Homo sapiens: one gene and its partner. The protein of the gene in region 2 purifies or fractionates together with the protein of the main gene of each other region. This does not show direct contact. Each region holds a gene or a part of one and is shown on either strand. Other genes may lie near its edges.

Region 1 (3,654 bases), on a different chromosome or scaffold from region 2:
TAATAGTAGAGGAGGTAGACAGGGTAAGAATAAAAATAGAAAGGCCTCACCCAGGTGGAGTGAGGCAGGAACCCGGGAGAGGCACCGCCCCACATGGGTGCAGCACCCGTCCTGGGAGGAATTTCTATCTAGAGCGAGACTGAAACCAGTGAGGCCGACTGCTGAATGCTCGTCTCAGCGGACAAACACTTACAGGCTGGAAGATCTTGAGTTTCTTCTTGCCACTTGGATTTGCAGCTTTCTCAATTCTACCCTTTATCCCTTGGTCTTCGCTAGACTTCTGCTCTATTGTTCCTATACTTGTACAATCGGTGCCATCAGCATCTCCAGGTCTCCATTTAGCTTCCTGCTGATCTGCCGTTTCTGAATGAGTCTCATCCTGCACTTGCAGAATGGTGCAGTTTGGGCAGATATAGTCTTCCCCATTCCTTTCCAAAAGCCTCCCTCGAGCCTCAGAAATGCCCACACAATCGCCATGAAACCATTCTTCACAGCGGTCACAGCAAATCATAAACCTGAAATTATAAAATAACGGTATTAGCAATGGGACGTGAGTGACAAGCACTTTTCAACACATTAATAAGACAATTGGTTTTAACTTCATGAAAAAATGCAAATATACAGAAAAGTAGAGATTAAGAACGTCCTCATGCCTTTCCTTTGATTTTAACATTCAACCAAATTTACTTCACCGTTTTTTAAGAGTAGCGCATTTTAGGAGCAAACTCTAAGGCATTCCACCACAGATACCTCAGCAAGTCTCCCCCCAAAACTGCGACAATGCCTTTATCCCAGCGCCAAGCCAACAGGCTGCCTATCACCGTCTGACACCCAGTCCTAGCAGAGATCTTTTGAGCTGCCCCAATGTTTGCACTAGGACACTTGCGGTCTGCACATGCCCCTCTGCTATGTCTCCCAAGGGGCAGTCTAGAGGAGCAGTCTCAGACAGACCCCGGAGTGACGGACACATTCTCCTCCATGCCGTCTACACAGAGCCACTGGCTGCACGTGGCTCACGTGACTGGGGTGGGGCGCTATTCACCTCCTCACTTGACTGGAAACAGCCATGTGTGGCCAGTGGCTACCAGAGTGGAGAGGTGGCTCTAGGAAGTCCTTAGCCACTCTTATGTGTTTCTTTTTTGACAACTTGTTCATCTTTTCCAACAAATCGCTCATCCAGCCCAGCTTTGTAACCCTTTAAAATGAAAACAAATGGAAAATTCTGTTTGCAACCCTGGGATTTCTGTGGGTGCCCACACATGACCCACCTGTTGTTGTGAGGCTGGCGGCAAATGCAATACAGGGCGTTGGGGTCGTAACCCTCACATTCAGGCTTCGGTCGGCCCAAGTCTCCAGGCTCCTCATCTTTGATGTCCTGAGCCGCCTTTCCCTCCAACTTACTCTCTCTGTCATCTTTCCCAGCCTGGGACACAACCCCCTGATCGTTCTCGGGCTCCTGCTTACTGGGCAGGACGCCCTCCACAGTGTCACTGGCCTCGGAGCCCACAGTCTCGGCGGGACCCTCCTCCCGGCGCTTCTTCCGCAGGCGACTCTGGATCCCTTTCAGGGGCCTCTCAGTGGGCTCCTGTTCCCGCTTCCTGCGAAGGCGATTCTGAAGCTCTTTCAAGGTCAGGCCATCGCTGTCACTATCGGAGGTGTCATCGTGGTCATCCCCTCCTTTCACCTTTTCAGAAGAGGCTGGTCGTTCCTTCACAGCTGTGGAAGCAGACTGGGGGCCGCTTCTGGTCTCAGAAGCGCTTTCCACGCTGCCCTCGGAGGCTGTCTCGGCGTCTGTGGCGGGGCAGGACGTGGGCTCACCAGAATCCTCCAGGGAGACAGGCATGCTCCTCCTGCCGCGGCGCCGCGCAATGGTCAGGAACTGCTCCACGCGCTCAGTGCGCTTGGGCTGCCTCCCACTGCGCCGCAGGGACAGGCCCAGCTGCTGCTGTGGGGGTGGCGGCTCCAGTGGGTCAGCCTCCGCGTCCCCTGCGCCCTCTCGCTTGGCGATAGTGGTCCTTCGAAAACCCCATGTTTTCCTGAACTCTTTGCTGGTGGGTTTGATGGCCTTAGGTGCCTCCTCATTGCTCGGGTCGCCTTTGTCGTCCATACCTAGCGGTAAAGTGTAAGCACATAGTGACCAACTGACCACAGAACAAAAGGTGACATTGCCGCCAAACACGCGCAGCAGGGGCCACCTCCCTACAAACAGTGGAGCTCTACATAAAGCAAGTCCTTCTGACCAGTGTTTCCTAATGTGTGCTATGTGAGATGATTCAAGATGATTTGTAAAGATAATTTTAATATAGTTAAACAACTAACGTTTAGACAAAAATACAGCTAACAAATCAAATGTACAATTTCATCATTTAACTGCTCAGGACAAGGCTTCACAAGCCAGACAGTAGGGACAAATAGGAAATATTGGACAGTATAGCAGGGTAAGGATGTGAGTAAGGACGTGAGCAAGGACGCGAGCAGCTCGGAGGTGGCACGAGCTCCCCAGCACCTCCGCAGGCAGATGGGCTGCTCTGACCACAAGCACAGTGAACAAGACGCTGTGCCAGTTTGGGTGTGGCCTGCAAAGGGACCCAAGTCTGTTCTGGACTTTTGCAAGTATGGGCTGGCCACCACCATGCTGAAAAGAGGATATGAAGAAGCTGAGTCCCGACTTTCAGCTCCCCAACCAGGGGCTGGGGCCAGGAAGGATGCTATCACTATCTGGGACCCTCCATACCAGCCCTGCTGCCAAGTGAATGACCCTCACGGGCACAATGTGAGAGAACTGCCTAACTCCTGACCCAACAGATTGTGTGGTATGAAATAAACCTTGTTTTAGTCTACTGAGCTTTGGAGATATTGTTAGCAGCAAGACAACTGGGACACTTAGAAAACATGGTCAAGGCGATCACTTTAAGGTATATTTCTTTTTTTTTTTTTTTGAGACGGAGTCTTGCTCTGTCCCCAGGCTGGAGTTAGCCACTGTGCCAGGCCAGTATATTTTTTTTTCTGTATTATTTTTCACTTTCATTCTAATACATTACTAAAGAATCTTATTTATGAAACTTTTACTCTTGTTGAAATGACAAAAATCTGAAAAAGACAGTAGATACTTTGAGAATTCTTTTCCAAGCTGTCCAAGCTTTAATTACATTTCAATGCTAATGATGACTCTGATTTTATGCCATGTTCCATCCTGGGGGAAGGACTGGCATAAAATGAAAGCCTTAAAAAATATACAAAATGGGGCCGGGCCTGGTGGCTCAAGCCCATAATCCCAGCACTTCGGGAGGCCGAGGCAGGCAGACCACTTGAGGTTAGGAGTTCGAGACCAGCCTGGCCAACATGGTGAAACCCCATCTCTATTAAAAATACAAAAATTAGCTGGGCATGGTGGCAGGCGCCTGTAATCCCAGATACTTGGGAGGCTGAGGCAGGAGAATTGCTTGAATCCAGGAGGTGGAGGTTGCAGTAAGCCGAGATCGCACCACTGCACTCCAGCCTGGGCGAGCAAGACTCAGTCTCAAAAAAAAGAAAAAGAACGAAAATACAAAATGGAAAATTACTTGCAACCTGTAACCTGTGTTGTTCTTTTTGCTTCCCTCTAAATGCTGTCACTTCTCATTTTCCTGTCCAGCTAAAGATGCTGCCTGGCCG
Region 2 (3,654 bases):
TATTTTTAGTAGAGACGGGGTTTTGCCATGTTGGCCAGGCTGGTCTTGAACTTCTGACCTCAGGTGATCCACCCACCTTGGCCTCCCAAAATGGTGGGATTACAGGCATGAGCTTATATACGGATTTTTGATGCTATACACTGAATAGTTTCTTGCTTTTCATTTGGCCAGGGTTTTACTGGGGGAGATAGGAAAAGGAGAGAAAGCAAAAACTAGGGAAGAGCATGGTGTAAAGTGTGAGCTACAACTGTTTTTAAAAATAAGCAAATATTCTTGGAGATTTGAAAGTCCTATTAAAGAATAGTTCTGTATCTAACTAGAATTTGGATAATCAAATGGCTACTGAATATATGCTAAATATAACAACTCAATAGACAATATTTTTGCTATTATTCACTAAGTCAATCTTCCCTCTTGTTTAAAAACAATTAACAAGAAAAAGCCAAAAAATATCATGGTGTAGATCCTTAGACGTGCAAATCCATGTCTATTTGTAACTTGTATCATTTCTGAAGATTGTCTTTTTAATATTCTATCCTCCAACCAAGTGAGTTGACCCTGGTGAACTGACCTCTTTCTGTTTATAGGTAGAAAACAGCTAAGTATTTATTATAAGTCAAAGGTCAGGGCCAGCAAAGAGATTGCAAGTACAGCCTCTATCCTAGTTGGTGACAGTTAATTGCAGCATTTTGGTAGGAAGCGTTCTAAATCCAAATCTGGGTTCAATAGGAAAAGAGAATGCTATTATCAGCTAGTGATGTTTACTCTGGGTGGGGCAGTGGAGGAGGTGGTGGCAGGCCTACTACAGCTGTGTCTTCCCCTATCTTATCTATTTATAAGCATTTCTCTTTTCACAACATTTAGCACTACCTCACTAACATCAGAGAGGAGCAAAGGAATGAGATAGAGCTAGGAAAGATGTAAAATCCCTGGGAACAGGCAAACAGTGTGCTGGAAATGTGGAGATAATTCATAGTTATCCTCATTGATGCTGGGATTGAGATTTGAAAGGCCGGTCCTCTGATAGTGAAGTCTGCAGTCAGGTTACTTCCTCTACCATGCACCAGTTCCCAGAGTCAGGGTACTTACCATGGATGGCCAGTGAAAGAACTGGGGGTGTGATGTGGACTATTAAAGACTACATCTCTTTCCCTTGACTGTAGGAAGGGGAATTAAAGTGTGCAGCTCTACTGAGCAAGATGATGAAGACACTATGTCCCTAGCAGTGCAGTGGAGCTTATCAGAAGCACATATGGGAATCTCATGGACACAGTGACATCACACACCCAACTTTCCAAGATTCAGATTTCATACTGGGTCTGGAAAACTTTGAATCTGCATTCAGAGAGCCCCAAAAGCCTTGACTCTGGGCCCCCAACCCCACAAAAAGCCTTTCAGTGACAGGAACAGCAAGTTTAAAACACACATAACATATAACCAAGGGAGGATTTATAAGAACTGTTAAAACCTGTAACAAAAGAAACCCCTGGTTGAGGTGCACACAGATACACTTCATTCTCAGGATGTGCTCTGAAATGCACACTGAAGTGGGGGCAGGAGTTAGAAAGTCATCCACGTGTTTGTTTATCCTTTGGCCAGAGCTGGTAGTCCAAAATCTAATTTTTCTACTGAAAAATCATAAGATTGTCAACCACAATTAGCAAAATGTTCTAATTCTGATTTGCTGGAATCTGCCCTCTTAACTGAATCTTGGCATTGCTAATGCAAAACAGTTTGCTCTGCAAGTTTGCAAAACCAGCCAGCAAAGAGTCGGAGCCTTTCCCCTTAGGGGAGCCATTCAAAGGACCAGATTATTAAGGGCTTGGTAGCTGTGGCACCTGAACCATAGGAGAAGCCCACCTGCAAATAAAAGAAAAAGTGAAACACACAAATACATTTTGTGTGCCCTAAAAGAAACAAAATCAACTGAGGTCCGAAATTAAAATTAAGAATTTGACATGCTGGTGGAAGAAAAAGGAAGAATTTTTTTCTTTTAAAGTAAAGTTAGTGAATTAAAAAAAAAAAATTCTAGCCCCAGTCTGTGCCAACATGGACATCTGGCAATCTGTGGAGTTTTAATTACCTCTTTACGCCATAGGCCATATTAAGCAAATTGTCCAGCCTGCAAAGAGAAGGAGGGTCTCTGGGTTAATGCCTCACAGATGGCAAGATCGCTCAATGGAACTATTAATAAGAATGCTCCATTTTCAAAGAAGAAAAGCTCAACAACTTTCCCCACTGCTTAGGAGTCTATCCACCGGTAGTTTCCCCCTTTTCTGTCTCTAACTGCAAGTAATTCATGTTCAGGTCATTGCTAGAGTTTAAAGCAAGTGTCTAATGAGTCTCCCTTTCTTTCAAGGTCTGAATTAATACCATTCCCCCCACCTCTCAGAACATTTGTGTGGATTTTGTTTTATATTGTAGTGAAATTGTTCAAAGCGGGGGCTTCTTAAATTGTTCACCTTTTTACTATAATTAAACTTGTAAATAAAGGTCTCTGTTCCAGATTAACAATACACAGGCACACAATATGTATCAGAACAGATCTTTTCTGTTAGCCTTGCTACATTAACTAAATCATCTTACTACACACATTTTTGGGAGGCAGGGGGAGTTTGCAGGTTAAGATTTTTAAAAAGTGGCTTACTGTTTACTGCCTGATAGCACCTCCCAGCAAACTGCCATTACGCTATAATCTTCCTCACATTCACTACCTTACTTGGGGACAAGCTATTCACACCATAGGGCAGTAGTAACGATAGTTTCCACCATTAGAAGTCTGCTGGAGAGGCTTTTTACATAAATACTGCATGTGCTCTCAAGCAAAATAAAAATTAGATGACTTGGACTCTTCATGAAATCATTAACCATTTCAAATTCACAGGGCATAGGAGGACACGAAAGAGGATGATTTTTCTCCTCATGTAGCCAGATGGAGCATACTATCCTAGATAGAAGGACCTACTATTTCCCATGTGAAGTTTCTCAAAGAGAAAAACATTTTCATCAAAGGGAAGCTGGGCTGTGGTGTGGAATAAAGTAATTGTTTAGAATTTATCATGGGTAAGTCAAACATATTTTTATCTCTTGTATAATAGAGACCAGTCAAGGTCATACTGCCTTCATGGAGAGAAACCTGTCTTTTAGAAAAGTCCCAGGAGAAGGGCAATGCCCCCCTGCCCCAGGAGCTTCCTGGGGGTTGGGTACTTGAAGGAAACACTAATCAGGCTTGGACAGGATCTTCCTCCCTATCTTCCCAGAATCTACTGACTTAACATAATAAGGTTAACACCAAAGGCACTTCCCCCTCCCCTGAACTCAACAGAGTTACCTGCCGAGGGAAAAGAAGATAGGAAAAACAACTCCTTCTGGCAAGGATCTGCCTTATGGTCTATTTTTTGAATTTATTAAAAGCCACTGTCCAGCCTTAAGTCTAATCTGCTGAATGTGGTCACTGATCTGTGATTAACTCTTGTTGAAACTGAACCTTCATGTTTGGTTAAATACAGACATTTTGTTTCTACCAAAGAATCTAAAGTTTATACAGTCACAGTAGTAAATTGGAAGAGGGCTTAGAAGGGCATCTGCTCCAACTGTCTCATTTTACAGGAATGGAAACTGAGGCTCGGGGGGAGTTTTGCACAGTGATTCCTG

What was found. The genes of interacting proteins can lie anywhere in the genome.
Region 1: the proteins of ELAVL4 (region 2) and DIDO1 purify together in Homo sapiens (co-immunoprecipitation; one large-scale study listed by IntAct). This does not show direct contact.

The regions. Positions count from the first base shown.
Region 1 is NC_000020.11:62,909,506-62,913,159, forward strand, and holds part of DIDO1 (death-inducer obliterator 1), read right to left. Parts: intron 2,110-3,654; 5' UTR 2,108-2,109; coding exon 1,269-2,107; intron 516-1,268; coding exon 194-515; intron 1-193. UniProt on the Homo sapiens protein: Putative transcription factor, weakly pro-apoptotic when overexpressed. Tumor suppressor. Required for early embryonic stem cell development.
Region 2 is NC_000001.11:50,195,897-50,199,550, reverse strand, and holds part of ELAVL4 (ELAV-like protein 4), read right to left. Parts: intron 2,123-3,654; coding exon 2,084-2,122; intron 1-2,083. UniProt on the Homo sapiens protein: RNA-binding protein that is involved in the post-transcriptional regulation of mRNAs. Plays a role in the regulation of mRNA stability, alternative splicing and translation.